Linked DNA regions of Homo sapiens: all the other regions are linked to region 1. The links come from fine-mapping of genetic effects on gene expression. A gene starts in region 1. Each other region holds a variant in brackets. All regions are shown on one strand. Distances are from middle to middle. Region 1 holds the start of CMTM6 (CKLF like MARVEL transmembrane domain containing 6). Region 2 holds the start of LOC124906226 (a long non-coding RNA gene). Region 3 overlaps CMTM6 (CKLF like MARVEL transmembrane domain containing 6).

What was found. PIP is the estimated chance that this variant, and not a neighbour inherited with it, causes the effect. A credible set is the group of variants that fine-mapping cannot tell apart.
Region 2: its variant is the best candidate, but not a certain one, in a credible set for the expression of CMTM6 in tibial nerve (GTEx, PIP 0.69).
Region 3: its variant is the best candidate, but not a certain one, in a credible set for the expression of CMTM6 in whole blood (INTERVAL, PIP 0.66).

What each region holds. Positions count from the first base shown.
Region 1 is chr3:32,500,141-32,505,423 of GRCh38, forward strand. It overlaps CMTM6 (CKLF like MARVEL transmembrane domain containing 6), which reads right to left and starts at 2,712. Exons shown (of 4, transcript NM_017801.3): 1 at 2,468-2,712. The coding sequence starts at 2,605. RefSeq lists silencers at 2,423-2,652, 2,723-2,812.
Region 2 is chr3:32,577,287-32,582,569 of GRCh38, forward strand. LOC124906226 (a long non-coding RNA gene) reads left to right here and starts at 1,422. Exons shown (of 2, transcript XR_007095860.1): 1 at 1,422-1,459; 2 at 1,706-2,323. The variant A/G (reference allele first, on the strand shown) is at 2,458.
Region 3 is chr3:32,479,438-32,484,720 of GRCh38, forward strand. CMTM6 (CKLF like MARVEL transmembrane domain containing 6) reads right to left here. Exons shown (of 4, transcript NM_017801.3): 4 at 1,875-4,660. The coding sequence ends at 4,523. Among named protein-coding and RNA genes, the nearest start is that of CMTM6, 21 kb to the right of the region's middle. The variant T/TAA (reference allele first, on the strand shown) is at 1,933.

The DNA.
Region 1 (5,283 bases):
CTTGTTAAAACACCTCCTCTTCTGATTACGGGTTTCTCCATTACAGTTGTTTCCTTACTGGAGCTCGCAATTCTGTTTAGTTTTTTAAAAAAATTAAACATTTAAAGTAAAACAACCAATCTATCTAAAGGAAGAATTTGAGTTAAGGCAAAGACCTTGCCTATAGCCCCAGGCTGGAAGACAACTTTTACCGACTTCATATGTAACCTTCTTGGGACTTGCTGGATAATTCCTGTAATATACTGTTACTGTGAAGAGATAAGACATTATCAAAACAAACAAAGGAACAAAAAGACAACCATCAAAGTGAAAGGCAGTAATGAAAAAGTACTTTTAAATCTCCACATTAAAGAAAGCATTCCTGTAACATGACAATTTCCCCATAAACAAATAAATGGATTTCATAAAGAGATATTAGTTTTTATTTTTTCTCCATTTCTTCTTATGAATGATGGAGAACTAATAATAGTCTAACGATCTTTTAAGGCAAATTCATCTTCTCTGTGTCCAAGTATAACATTTACCACAAAAATTTCTGGTTGTGTTCCATGTTTTCTTCTATAACAGCAATAAGGAAGGAAACTGGTTATGTTCTATTCCAAAGATACGAAACTACAGTTTACTAAACTATAAGAAGGTAATCAGAAAATTTACTTTAGCTTTGCCACTTTTTATTAGAAAGAAAATAATAAAGGCAACTGAAAACAGGAGATTTTGTGGGCAGCAAACCAATACAGATGATTTTTTTCGAGCAGCAAGAATGCTTCAGATGGGCTGGGCGCAGTGGCTTACGCCTGTAATCCCAGCACTTTGGGAGGCCCGGAGGGCGAAAATCACCTGAAGTCAGGAGTTTGAGACCAGGCTGGTCAACACGGCGAAACCCCGTCTCTACCAAAAAAAAAAAAAAAAATCAGCCGGGCATGGAGGTGCGTGCCTGTAGTCCCAACTACTCGGCACGAGAATTGCCTGAACCCGGGAGGCGGAGGTTTCAGTGAGCCGAGATTGCGCCACTGCCCCCAGCCTTGGCGATAGAGCAAGACTCGGTCTCAAAAAAAAAAAAAAAAAAAGCTTCAGATGAATATTCTTTTCTGTTCTAAAGAGTTCTACTATTCACGTAGAAAATTTTAGCTTTACTGCAGAGAAATACAGCTAATACCTAAAAATCATCATGTGACAGCTGACAAGAGAAGAGAAGGAAGAAGGAAGAAGGTAGAAGGAACAGCTTATGCAAAGGAACAGTGGCAGGAAAGAGCCCCTGATGCCTCGTAATAAATTAAAGGTGGCCAGTGTGGAACCACCTAGAGGGAGACTGGGAGAAAGATAAGGCCAGATCCTACTGGGTTCCATAGGCCACATTATCACTTGCTTTCAAATGATTTCCCAGTCATCAGCAGATGTGATCATTTTGATCGCTAAACAGCAGTGCCGATTTTCCGACTTCTGTTTTTCTATTCAATAAAAGTAGGTCACTAGAGTTCTAAGAATTTAACTTCGGGTCATTTGAGTTGTAAGAATTTAAGTTCTTTCCAAGGAAACCAATGAGCTAATTTTTACTTAGAATGGTTAAAAAACAAAACAAAGTAAGACAAAACTCATAAACATCATAAGCATTCGGATTTTTCCTAAACTGGTTCTATTGCAGAAATAGAACCTAAACTGTTTCTATTTTTCCTAAACTGGTTCAACCATCAGTGGTTGGAACAGTACATAGGAGCCAACACGACTGTAAAGTGAATAATTTAAATCTCAAAGATGCTTTGATGTTTTCACGAACAGGTTTATGGTACTTCAACTGCTTAAAATAAACTCAATAAAATGGAAAGATGCATACCATGTCCTAGTTCAGCTATCCGCACATACTTACAAAAAGCTGTCCTTTTGACTTTCCACTTAGAACCCATATTGCTCAATTTTGAAATAATTCTTTTCCAGTCAATATAAAACTTTTAGAAGACAATTTACCGGACACACATACACACACATCTCAATGCCACGCGTGGTATCGCAGGACTTTGTCCAGCAAGTTAAACTGCCCCCATGGGCTCGCAGCAGGAAAACCGCAAGAGCCAGAGAAAGATAAACAGCGCTTCACAGTCTAAATACAGGCACTGTGGGCGATAATGCAGGGTAGCAGCAGAGAGAAGAGAGGAAAGTCGCCATAGAGGATGAGTGAAAGATGTTGAAGTGGCTGACTTGGGTCTCCGACGCATTTCCTGAGCCCGCCTAACAGGCTGGGTGGCCCCAGTTCGTGGGATCCCGATGGGGAGAGCCTTGGGACTGAGGGGCCGCCCGGCGGAAGGGCGGAGGGTAACGCCCCCTTCCCCAGGCTGAGAGGGAAGGAACTAGAGGTGTGGAAACCTCCTTTTACTGAACAACCAAGCTGAAACGAAGGAGCTCGGCGGCCTCCCAAGCCCGGGCCAGACCCCGCTCCCCAGCCCGGGCTCGCCCTCCCTGACCGCGGACTCACCAGCTGCAAGCCCTTGAGAACGCGCCGGAGCAATGGGAGCCGGCCCATGAAAAAGTAGGCAGCGAGGCCGCTCCGGGGGCCTCTGGCGGGGCCCGGGTCCTCCTCCGTAGTGGGGCTGTACACCGCTCCGTTCTCCATCGCCTCGGGCCGGGGAGCGCGGCGGCCGCAGCAACCGCGCCGTTGACTTCTCGGACTCCAGAAGTCCCCGGTAGCCGGGAGGCGGCCGTCACTTCCTGGGCCTTCTCCCCGGCTTCCGCCTGACTCCGCCCCTTCCCGCCCCCGCCCTTGGCCCGCCCCGCCCCCTCTCAGCAAATTTGCTTGTTAGCTGTTGGGATTCTTCCGACTTTCATCCAAGAATTGAGTTCTTTCTGTGAGCCTTTGATGGATTTCTCACCTCCCTCCATCTTTCATCCTCCTGACATTCATTCACTTAGTATTTTTGCGTACTTTCGGTGTGCAGTGAACCCCGTTCTAGGTACTTGGGTGACAGCCAAGTACTACCCAAAATCACAGGATCCCTAGTAACAGAGACAGACAATAAACAAGAAAACAGATGGATAGCAATTTCAGATAGTGATAAGTGACGTGAAAATATGATACGAAAATAATGGATTCAGCATTTCTGGTGGCTTGATAAATTTATTAAAAAAAAAAAGAAGATGGAGGAGGAGGAGAAGAGGAAGGAGAAGGAAAAAAGGATGGAGAATTGGGTGCTCTACTTAAATGGCCACTACTAAACTGAGTGGTCAGGAAAGGCCTCTCTGAGGACCATGATCTTTGAATTGAATGAGACTCAAAGTGTGAGAAGCCAGGCTTGTAAAGTTCTGGGGAGAGCCTTTCACGAAAGTGCAAATGTCCCGAGGACCAAATGAGTTTGACTCAATCTGAAGCCCAAAGGCCTGTGTCGCTAGGAATAAGTACGGGAGGAAAGGAGATGTTGGAGATGTAGGCAAAGGCCAGATAATGTGGAGGCCTTGCAGACCAAGGGAAGAATTCGTATTTCATTTGAAGTACAATGAGTTGTCTGTAAGGACTTTCAGAATCGCTCCCTCCCGCGTCTCCCGAAATTCCATTTAGGCTCACTTTTCAAAATCATTTCCTTTTTCTCTTTCTTGGTCACCAACTGCTACAGTCACATATGTTAATTTTGTGTGAACTTGTCAAGGAATGTAATTATATTTTAGCAACTGAAGTTGATTGAGTTACAGGATGTTCACAACAATATAAAGTAGGTTCGACAGTATAAAGTCGGTTACATTCATTTTCAAATGAGAAAACTGAGGCCAAGAGGCTGAAATCATATCCAAGGTCAAACAGCCAGGAGCAGCTGGAATGCAGGCCTAAGCAGTCTGACTCGAAACCTTGCTGCTAAACGCTAACCCAGAAAACGTCAGCTTCTAACTCATCTCTCCATTGGAGTCTCAAAACCCATGGAAGAGAGAAGGGGTTTCTGCTGCCATCAGCTGCTACATCTTCTCCGTGGCCCCAAACCTCCCTTTCTTCTTCCAGTAACAAACAAAAGCTCCCATTCAAATGAATAGAGACAAGTAGATACTGCCCTGCAGGGGCCACCTACAACCAGCCAGAACTACCCTTCTGTCTCTGATTACATGCACTCTGAATGTCCTCCCAAGGCCAAGATGCCACCAATTCTGTCCAACAAGGAAGGCCACTGTATTTTCACCAGGGCTACAAGGATTCATTGCCCCATTATTCTTCAAGTCACTATCATCCCAAATTAGACACTACTGATGTCTAAAAGTTCCTTTGAAATTCATCCAAAATTAAGATGAGTTGATGACTAGAGAGATGGATAAAAGATTTGTGATAGGCCAGGCGCAGTGGCTCACGCCTGTAATTCCAGCACTTCGGGAGGCCGAGGCAGGTGGATCACCTGAAGTCAGGGGTTCGAAACCAGACTGACCAACATGGTGAAACCCCGTCTCTACTAAAAATACAAAAATTAGCCGGGCGTGGTGGCGTGTGCCTGTAATCCCAGCTACTCGGGAGGCTGAGGCAGGAGAATCGCTCAAACCCGGGAGGTGGAGGTGGCAGTGAGCTGAGATCGCGCTACGGCACTCCGGTCTGGGCAACAGAGTGAGACTCCGTCTCAAAAAAAAAAAAAAGCAGGCCGGTCGCGGTAGCTCACGCCTGTAATCCCAACACTCTGGGAGGCCGAGGGGGACGGATCACGAGGTCAGGAAATCAAGACCATCCTGGCTAACACGGTGAAACTCCATCTCTACTAAAAATACAAAAAATTAGCCGGGCGTGGTGGCGGGCGCCTGTAGTCCCAGCTACTCGGGAGGCTGAGGCAGGAGAATGGCGTGAACCTGGGAGGCGGAGCTTGCAGTGAGCCGAGATCACACCATTGCACTCCAGCCTGGGCGACAGACCGAGACTCCGTCTCAAAAAAAAAAATCATTGTTAAAAAAACAACAACAACAAGGATCTCTAATAAAGCAACTGCAGTAACATATTAATGGTAATATTTAGGTGAAGTATACGGGTGTCCACTGTACAATTATTTCAGCATTTCTGTATGTTTGAACATTTTCAAAATAAAGTATTGGGAGGAAGTTACAAAGAAACAAGGATACTTTGAGACAAGAGAGAAGATGAACAGACTTCGTCAACCCTCTTGGTTTGTTTAGGGCACACTTATGCAATTCTCTAGGGGTCTCTGCTTCTCTTTGCATTTTTAGAAGAAGACACAAATTTAGCCTGTGATTCATAAACTCCAACATGGCGAAGAATCATCTGTGAGATTAATTAAAAAGGAAGATTCTTGGAGATCTAGCCCCAAAGATTCTGAA
Region 2 (5,283 bases), 77 kb after region 1:
GTTTTGTTTTGTTTTGGTAGAGAGAAGTTCTCACTATGTTACCCAGGCTTGTCTCAAACTCCTGGACTCAAGCCATCTTCCTGTCTTAGCCTCTCAAAGCACTGGGATTACAAACATGAGCCATCACACCCAGCCTTAACCATTTTAAAAATATAAATCACTTAAAAGTATATTACACACCCCACTCCTTTCCTATTTTAACAAGTTATATAAATATAGATTTATGTTTTCCTGAAGGCCCTTGGCTTCCTTAGGCTCATCAATAATACTACCGTGTTAAATCTGGGAAGTGCTTAGGTCCTACTGGGATTCCCCGGGTGTATCCCAGATGGCTCTGCCTTTTAGTTTGGTTTCTAATTCAGCTGAGACTCAGGGCTTGTAAGTGGGAAATGGAACACTAGCCAAAAGTGAGACAGCTCCTCCTCTCTCCAGCTTCCTGTCTCCCAAGAGCTACACGTCTCTCCTCTCTGCTTGCTTCTCTTCTCTCCTCTCTCTCTGTCGACCAGCGTCCTCTGCAAACTCATCAGCTTTCTCAAGGTCACATTGGGTATTTCTCTATCTCAAGAAAAGTGATCACTGGACAGACACAAGAGCTCTGCAGAAAACTAGTTTGACTGGGAGGGGAACTTTCCGTAGGTCTGGAGGTGGGTACTGCAGAACCACTTCCTCTTTCTTTTGGGGATGCCTCCTTCTCTGTTTGGGAACCAAAACAAGGCAGCTACCACTTGGGCTGCTTCCTATTATATCAGTTCCACAGGCTGCCACAAGCAGATTTTCAAATAAAACCTGCTTCACCCATGGTGCCAAATGCTGGCAGTCACAGTTGATATAAATGCTGGCTGAAAAGCCAAAATCAAAAGAAAAAGGAAGTAAGCAAGATGAGTGGACCCTTAAAGTTTCACTCTGAGCAATTCAAATGATAGCGTTGAAAAGGACTTCAGAGTTTAAATAGTCCCATCCTCTACACAATATGTGAATCTTTTTTTTTGGTAACATTCCTGACATTTGAGACAAACTGATAATGCTAGAATTTGCAGAGTCCTTGCTAGCCGTCTCTCCCAGCAGACCCAACCAGGGATCCCATTAAAGACGAGCAAACACCCACGGTTGCTTATATTTGCTTTCCTTTGAGTCATGTTTTTCTCATTCTAAGTACCTCCTTAGAATGAATGAAATGATGGGTATCTAATTCATTTTGCAGTCACCAGCCCCTCTAATTACAGACCTATCCTTCCTCTTGCTTCTCACCTAGGGATTTTTATCAAGTGGACCCTCACAGAACATCATATCTTAGTGAGAGGTGACAGCGTGCTGGCAGCTCTCGCTCGCTCTCGGCACCTCCTCTGCCTGGACTCCCACTTTGGTGGCACTTGAGGAGCCCTTCAGCCCACCGCTGCACTGTAGGAGCCCCCTTCTGGGCTGGCCAAGGCCGGAGCTGGCTCCCTCAGCTTGCAGGGAGGTATGGAGGGAGAGGCGCGAGCGGGAACCGGGGCTGCGCGCAGCGCTTGCAGGCCAGCTGGAGTTCCGGGTGGGCGTGGGCTTGGCGGGCCCCGCACTCGGAGCAGCCGGCCGGCCCTGCTGGCCGGGCAATGAGGGGCTTAGCACCTGGGCCAGCGGCTGCGGAGGGTGTGCTGGGTCCCCCAGCAGTGCCGGCCCACCGGCGCTGTGCTTGATTTCTCGCCGGTCCTTAGCTGCCTTCTCTCAGGGCAGGCCTCGGGACCTGCCGCCCACCATGCCTGAGCCTCCCCGACGAGCGCTGCCCCCTGCTCCCCGACGCCCAGTCCCATCGACCACCCAAGGGCTGAGGAGTGAAGGCGCAGGCGCAGGACTGGCAGGCAGCTCCACCTGCGGCCCCAGTGGGGGATCCACTGGGTGAAGCCAGCTGGGCTCCTGAGTCTGGTGGGGATTTGGAGAACATTTATGTCTAGCTAAGGGATTGTAAATACACCAATTGGCACTCTGTATCTAGCTCAAAGTTTGTAAACACACCAATCAGCACCCTGTGTCTAGCTCAGGGTTTGTGAATGCACCAATGGACACTCTGTATCTAGCTAATCTAGTGGGGGGCCTGGAGAACTTTTGTATCTAGCTCGGGGATTGTAAATGCACCAATCAGCAGCCTGTCAAAACAGACCAATCAGCTCTCTGTAAAACAGACCAATCAGCTCTCTGTAAAATGGACCAATCAGCAGGATGTGGGTGGGGCCAGATAAGAGAATAAAAGCAGGCTGCCCAAGCCTGTAGTGGTAACCCACTCGGGTTTGATTGCCTACTGGGGAAGGTTTGTTTTTTCCTTCTTTGCAATAAATGTTGTTGTTGCTCACTTTTTGGGTGCGTGCTGTGTTTATGAACTGTAACACTTACTGCGGAGGTTTACAGCTTCCTTTCTGAAGTCAGTGAGACCGTGAACCCAGCAGAAGGAGGAAACTGTCTCAGCATCCGAATGTCACAACGAGC[A/G]AATCCACGTGCGGCGCCTTTATGAGCTGTAACACTCACTGTGAGGGTCCACGGCTTCTTTAAGTCAGTGAGACGAAGAACCTGTCAATTCCAGACACATCAGCACAGAGAGATGGAGAAATACCTAAAAGAAAGTAGAAATAGACTCTTTTAACGTGTTTGTTTTTTCAGAGAAACCGCCAGAAAGTGCCCGGGGCAGTGGCTGTCGCCTGTAATTCCAGCACTTTGGGAAGCAGGAAAGGGCAGATCACTTGTGGCCAGGAGTTCAAGGACAACTTAGCCAACACTGTGAAACCCCATTTCTACCAACAATACAAAAATTAGCCAGACATACTGGGGCATGCCTGTAATCTCAGCTACTCAGGAAGCTGAGGCAGGAGAATCGCTTGAGCCTGGCAGGTGGAGGCTGCAGTGAGTCAAGATCAAACCAGTGCACTCCAGCCTGGGCAACAAAGCGAGACTGCACCTTAAAAAAAAAAAAATGCTTTTATTTTTACGTCTAATGTGAAATCCCACCTTTCTTAAAAAAAAAAAAAAAGTACTGGTAGGTGTATGTGTGCATGCAAGTATACTTTAGGACAAAATTTTACAAAGAAATATTTTTTTGTTTGGTTGTGGTTTGTGTTTTTGAGATGGAGTTTCACTCTTGTCATCCAGGCTGGAGTGCAACAGCTCGCTCTCGGCTAACTGCAAACTCCGCCTCCCGAATTTAAGCAATTCTCCTGTTTCAACCTCCCAAATACGTGGGATTACAGGAGTGCATCACTGTGCCACCTAATTTTTTTGTATTTTTAGTAGAGACAGGGTTTCACCATGTTGGCCACGTTGGTCTCGAACTTCTGACCTCAGGTGATATGCCCACCTCATCCTCCCAAAGTGCTGGGATTACAGGCGTGAGCCACCGTGCCTGTCGAAGAAATTGCTTTTCATTGGCTTAGAAATGTATCATTGAGAAATAACCGTCTCTGAATATATATTTTTTAATTCCAGGATAAGGTAATAGTAGAATTGCCTTTCATTTCAGACTGAACTTCTCACCACAATATCCATATTCATTCTTGGAAAATGGATGATGAATGGAAGGATAGTAACCTATAAAATCAACTCATACAGCAGCTTGAGTGGGCAAATTATGTTAATGTTAAGTGAGATGCACAGGGAAAGCAAAGACACTTGTCTTTTAGGCTGGAAGCATTCTTTAAGTGTTTTAATTATCTACTTACACATTTTTCAATACTAAACAGATAGGAATTTTAGGGTGCTTAGTTATCATTGTTTTAATCTATTCTTTGCCACTGAAAAGAAGAAAGAAAAAGGTCCACTGACTAATGTATTGTTAATTGCATATTTATTATACATATTTTTGGAGGATCTAATTTTCTTGTAATCAAATACTCCGAAGTTCAAGTCCATTACCTTTATTTAGTGATTTTAGTACCACTTAGTTCTCAGATTTCCAGTGTTACACTCTACTGCCCTCTTTGCTTCCTAAAGGAAAAGATATTTAATAACTAATTTTATAGATTGAGATCTGCCAACACTAGGTCACAAAGGTAATTAAGTTTTTCTTCTTTGGAGGCTCTGCGTTAGGCAAAAAAGGGAAAAAATATAATTCTCTGGTATTTTTAGAAATGTGCTATCTTTTGTAGCTGCAGGTGATTTCATATTCATATCAATTTAGTCTACTTTAGTCTAGAGCTAATTATGACTTCTTGTTGCTTTTACTAAAAGTAAGCCTAGAATTATAGTCTATTATATTCTCCACCAACCAAAACATTATGTATGTTTCTTTTTTCCTCACACGGGAAAGTGAATGAAAGAATTGCCCAGTGGGAATTTTTTATAAGCAAAATAAATCCATTCTTTTACACCATACAATGTTACAAAGTTGTTTATTTGAAGATATTTAAGGAGATTCTAAGGATCCTAAACTTTTTGCTACTGGGAACAAAAAGTTAAAGTTGACTAGTAATGTGAAAGTGGAATCCAGAAGCACTTTGTCTTTTATGATCCTTCCTTAGTAAATCCCAGGATTATTTTGAGGGGTCAGCTTCATCCTATATTCAGTTCACCTATTGGTAAATGAGGACTATCCAGATAAACTACTGGAATTTTCACTCTGATATATACATATATATGTAAAATTTTCATCCTGATATACATATATAAAAATATATATCAATATAATATAGATATAATATGTATGTAAAAATATATCAATATAATATATAGATATATATTAATATATTTATCTGAAATACATACAAATATATATAAATATCTATCTCTATATAGATATATAGAGATAGATAGATAGATTTTTTTTTGAGACAGAGTTTTGCTCTCATTGTCCAGGCTGGAGTGCAGCTGTGCAATCTTGGCTCACTGTAGCCTCCACCTCCCAGGTTCAAGTGATTCTCCTGCCTCAGCCTCCCTAGTAGCTGGGATTACAGGCTTCCACCACCACGCCCGGCTAATTTTTGTATTTTTAGTAGAAACAGGGTTTCATCATGTTGGCCAGGCTGGTCTCGAACTCCTGACCTCAGGCGATCTGCCAGCCTCAGCCCCCCAAAGTGCTGGGATTACAGGCGTGAGCCACTGTGCCCGGCCCACCAAAGGTAAGTCTTGAATCAAATTATGTTAATGTTAAATTGAGGAACATGGCAGTTAATTTGCATTATTTAGATGATACAGAATGTTTGCATTTAATGTTTGTGGTAAGGGTAATGGCTTATACAGTCCATGCTCCACAATCAGATGAAGGTGAGTTCAAATTTAGACTCCTGCCACTTACTAGCTCTGTGTCATTGGAGCTGCTTAAATGCT
Region 3 (5,283 bases), 21 kb before region 1:
AGTACCAGACGAGCAAAAATGTTAAGTTGAACTAATATTAAGTGCATTACAAGAGTGGGGAAACCAGCACCTCATTCACTGCTGAGGGAAATATAAACTGGGTCTACCCTTTGGAGATCCATCTGGAAATATTTAGCCATGCTGAAATCATAACGTACCTTCTGACCCACCAGACAATTTAACTTCTAAGTAGTTACCCACCATGTAAATTCTCACATGTGCACAAGAAGAGATGTTCAAATACATTTGTTCCCTGTAATGTTAAGATGGTCAAAAGCTGAAAATGCTGTTAGAATTTTTCTATCAGTAGGAGAATAAGTAAATTGTGACATATCCATACAATGAAATACCAAACAGCATTTAAAATGAATGAACCAGAGTTACAACCTTGAAGCAAATATGGCAAAATGTTATAATCTATTAAAGGTGAGTGAGTGGAGTCTACAACAGGTATTATCCTCTGTGCTTCCAGTACTTGAAATATTTCAGGCCAGGCGCCGTGGCTCATGCCTGTAATCCCAGCACTTTGGGAGGCAAGGCAGGTGGATCACCTGAGGTCAGGAGTTTGAGACCAGCCTGACCAACATGGTGAAACCGCATCTCTACTAAAAACACAAAAAAATTAGCAGGGTTTGGTGGCATGCGCCTGTAATCCCAGCTACTCAGGAGGTTGAAGCAGGAGAATCGCTTGAACCCGGGAGGCAGAGGTTGCAGTGAGCCAAGATGGCGCCACTGCACTCCAGCCTGAAGGATAGAGCAAGACTCTGTCTCCAAAACAAACAAACAAATTCAAAAATTTTAAAAAGTAGCTAAATATAAAAATGTTGGGGAAAAGACAATACTTCTCCCCCCACCCCGTTGTTTTTTTGTTTGTTTGTTTGTTTTTTTGAGATGGAGTTTTGCGCTTGTTTCCCAGGCTGGAGTGCAATGGCATGACCTCGGCTCACTGCAACCTCCGCCTCTGGGGTTTGAGCGATTCTCCTGCCTCAGCCTCCAAAGTAGCTGGGGTTACAGTCATGTGCCACCACACCCAGCTAAATTTTGTATTTTTACTAGAGATGGGGTTTCACCACATTGGCCTGGCTGGTTTCGAACTCCTGACCTTAGCTGATCCGCCTGCCTTGGCCTCCCAAAGTGCTGGGATTACAGGAGTGAGCCACTGCGCCCAGCCTCCCCCTTTATTATATCAATTTCTATGACACACATTACTGTACTTGTAGAAAAATTTGGCCACTGAATTCACCAATGTACCCAGATGTCTTATGAAATAAGTTTTTCTTACTGTTTAAGACACATTTAATTAGATTTTCTGCTTCTTGCAGCTTATTGCATATTGATACAATGCTCTTTATCAAAACAAAACTCAACTCTAAACTCTGAAGAATGTACAAATTCCAGTGAGTTCTTGATGACTATAAAGACCCTGTTATTCTCACACAGGGTGGAGGCAGGAATTTCGCAAACTACACAAATAGCTGTAGTTTTACCAGCACCACCCTAATAATTTTGCTTCACACTTTCCCAATCATTGAACAGTTCCTAAGATAATGTGCCTATTTTGTTTTTAGCATTGTTAGCCACATCTAGAAATGTGACAAGGAGTCTAAATTGCTTCTTTGGAAGTATTTAAAGCCATTTGTAAGTCTTCCTCTGTGGTTCCCTAAAAATGTTGTTTAAATGTGTATTCTAACTTTCCAACAAGAGGGACAGTTTATGGATGGGAAATGGATTTGTTTCTTTTCTATCCTAGATATATCTAAAATCTAGTATTCTATATAGGCACTCAACAAGATTGTGCAGCCAACTCCCACAACTACAGAGACAGCTTTTCATTTAAACATCACACTTCTGTAATAAACACTTACAAAGGTAAGAACGTTTTAATTAAATGGATTTATTTAAAAAGACTATAAAATCTGACATCAAGAGAGA[T/TAA]AAAAAAAAAAGACCCATAAGATTTAAATTGACAAATATAAAATGATTGGCTACAATGTAAAAATACATTTCCCAGCCCCCAAACAAAACACAAGTATAGTAATTATAAAATTTTTGTACTGTGAGTTCATTTCTCTTATAATTCTTGAGAACCATTCTAAGCAATCTATTTGTATAAAATATAAAATTTATCATAACTGTTAATTTAAAAATTATTTTAAATTTGAGTTTATTGAATTTGCCATTTTTTTGTACATAACAGTGGTTTCTGGTCCCAAGTTCCCCTTGAACTTATTTACTACAATGGTCTTTTTACTCCTATTTATTTCCTTCTACAATAGAAAAGAAAGGCTAACCATTCATGGGTCCCATAAAAAACAATGTGAAGGAAGGTTCTAAGAGTGACCAAATATACCAGTGAACATACTATCTTTCTGAAAAAGAAAGAATTAAGTGACCAACTAAGAGATCCACTTTTGCACCAATGAAACACATGGAGGTGAAACCTCAGAACAAGCGGAGCTTAAGCTCAATGACAGTATGTTTTATATGACAGGCCAGCTGAGAATGTATCTGTCAATCCTGACTAAGCCCAATACATGGGTGGTGACCCTGAGGTAGCCCAGATGATATGCTCTGAATTTTAGATAGGTCTAAATCACAATGGTACAGTCTGATGTGAAACTTTAGTCTACCTACCATAAACTCGTTTTCTGAATCAGTCCTTATTCATAATTAGACCCAAAACCCAGCTATTTCTCCTCTCTTAGATGACATGCCCAATAAAAACAGCATCCATGATTGGTTTCATTATCTCCCAATTAAGTAGTGGTGACACCACCACTAACACTAGTATCCAAACTCTGATACAAATCCTAAAGGTATTGAGTCAGTAAGACAGAGCAGAAGCTATGTTGGGCCATACTGACCAATTTCTGAGAACCACATTAGCCACATTCATGCAATTAAAACCCATCTAAGACACACAAATGGCAGATGAGAAAAAAAAAAAAGGATGAGGTCATTAAACTTTATCACTGGAAACATGATTCCACTGTTTCAAATAGGAAACCTACCCTGGGAGACTTCCACCAAAGTGCAGAAGGACCTGATGCACGGGCTCATCATCTTAACACTAGAGTCCCAAGTCAAAACTCTAGGAGGAGGATAAGAAAGGTCTAGTCTGTGAATCACCTGGACAGAAAGGTCATATCCCAAGTGCCCTGCCTATCTGTGACAGCTGCTAGCCAACAGACAATTCTGGTTATGAAGTTATCTCTTGAGAATGGCTTGATTCTCTTATGCCACCAACAGTATTAGTCTGGGCAGGGTTCCCTGGATATTTACTTTTTTTTTTTTTTTTTTTTGCCAAAGACAAACTAGAGCAATGCCTATGTAAGAACAAGGACTCTCAAGATCCTGCTACACAGTATTCACAATCAAAAGGGCCCAAGATTCAGGACCACCTAAAGACAACTGACAAAAAGTGTCAGAGCCAGAGGCCAACCTCTGCTAGATGAAGCAGCAGCACATGACTCCATTTCTATCTGATAAGGAGACAGAGAAGAGGCATCTCGAACAGATGAAAAACCAAAGGCTGGTGTCCTAAAAAAAACAGATTGGCTTCAAAGAAAACACTAAGGAAGACCCACAGAGCTGTATTAATTTTAGTAAAAATAATCATATGCCAACAGGGGAATTGAACCACTTTCTAAATCATAGTATGAACTCATCTCTTCAGATACTTGGTAAGTGGTCAAAGCTTGTTTTTATAATTACTTTCACTGTCTTGGGCAAAAAGTCTTTCTTATCTTTGGTCCTTAGGTGTGGTATCAGTTTCTTCCATTTTTTTATGTGTTACAAAACAATCTTTTTTTTACTTGACATCAACAACCAAGGTGCAGTATAAACACGAAGTTGCTGATATTGTTGCTTTTATACACATAAAATACCAACATCTCCCATACATTTTATAGGCTATACGAAGGTCTCAAAGAATTAATAACCGTTATCCAAAAATATTATAACATTTAAGGCTGAGTGAAATACAGTAAAGCCTGGTAATATATGTTAAGGAAAAAAACCTAGACCAACATTTTAAATATTGGTTTCTTAAATATGTTAAATTCCCATTAACAGAACATAATCTAAGCATCAAAACAAACAGCTAAGCAAATTAATTTAAAAATAAAACAATTTCTAAGTAGATGAATATAATCACGATGTTTATACAGCTATAAAGCATAATTTGGAAGCTAAGCCTAGTAAAAGAATGACCTGTAACAGAATGACAGAATCATTTATCAACCGTTGAGCTGTGTGATTTAAAAACAATTGTTTTCTCCTCCTCCCACCAAAATCTCCATTTGAGATAAGTTTCAATTATTATTTAAAAAAAAATTTTTTTTAACTTATCTGGCCTACTTTGTGGTGACTGACACAATATTGATAAAACTGCCTTCTTGACCTTCCCCTTGCTCTCCAAAAGAAGTGGTTTAAACAATTAACAAATTTTACAAGAGCTTCTGCCAGGGCTCAGGCACCACAATGCAGGGTCACTACCTTAGGTAACATCTGCTCCCCAGAGTCTTTAGGCATTAAGTGGCTCAGTGAGGGCTTCAGCCCTAGTGGTATTTTCAGGTTTTCTCAGCTGGGACTCCTGTCGTTTTTCATACAGCATAGTGATAAAGTCAAGTAGGAACATAAAACTTGCTATAAATCCAAACACCTGAGGAAAAAAAGGAGGAAAGGTTATATGAGAATTTTGGAATATAATCTTACATTTCCTACTTGGCTTGGAGAATGTTTCATATAAACAAGATGTTCATGAATTTTATCTTATACACGACTACTCTTTAATGGTAAAAAAAATTTTTTTAAGTCATCAAAAAATGGAAAGAAGTTATAAAAGAAAAACTTCCAGAATAATGGCTATTAGTCAAAGTCTCACAAAATATTAATGTTCTGCCTTATGTGTGCATGTTTATATGTGGAGGGCTAATATATGAAAGTAGGGTTAACAGATAAACATTAAATCCTATAAAATGATACAAAACAAAAATATTTGCATGGTTAGATTGACCCACAGATGCGATAAGGAAAATACGTGACTAGGCAACTCAGCCTAGGTGAAAATGAAAAAAGTTATTAATATCAAAACAGAAATTCCATTTTGAAGATACTATTAGGTTAAATTACTTAAATAATGTTCCAGTTGTCACACTGCAATGACACAGTGACATGACGCCACTACCTACTTCCTCTTCCTTAAATCACTTCCTCAACTGTTCTCTTCTAAAATACGATCATACGTTCTGAGAATTCTATCAAGAGACAGAAGACCATGCGTCT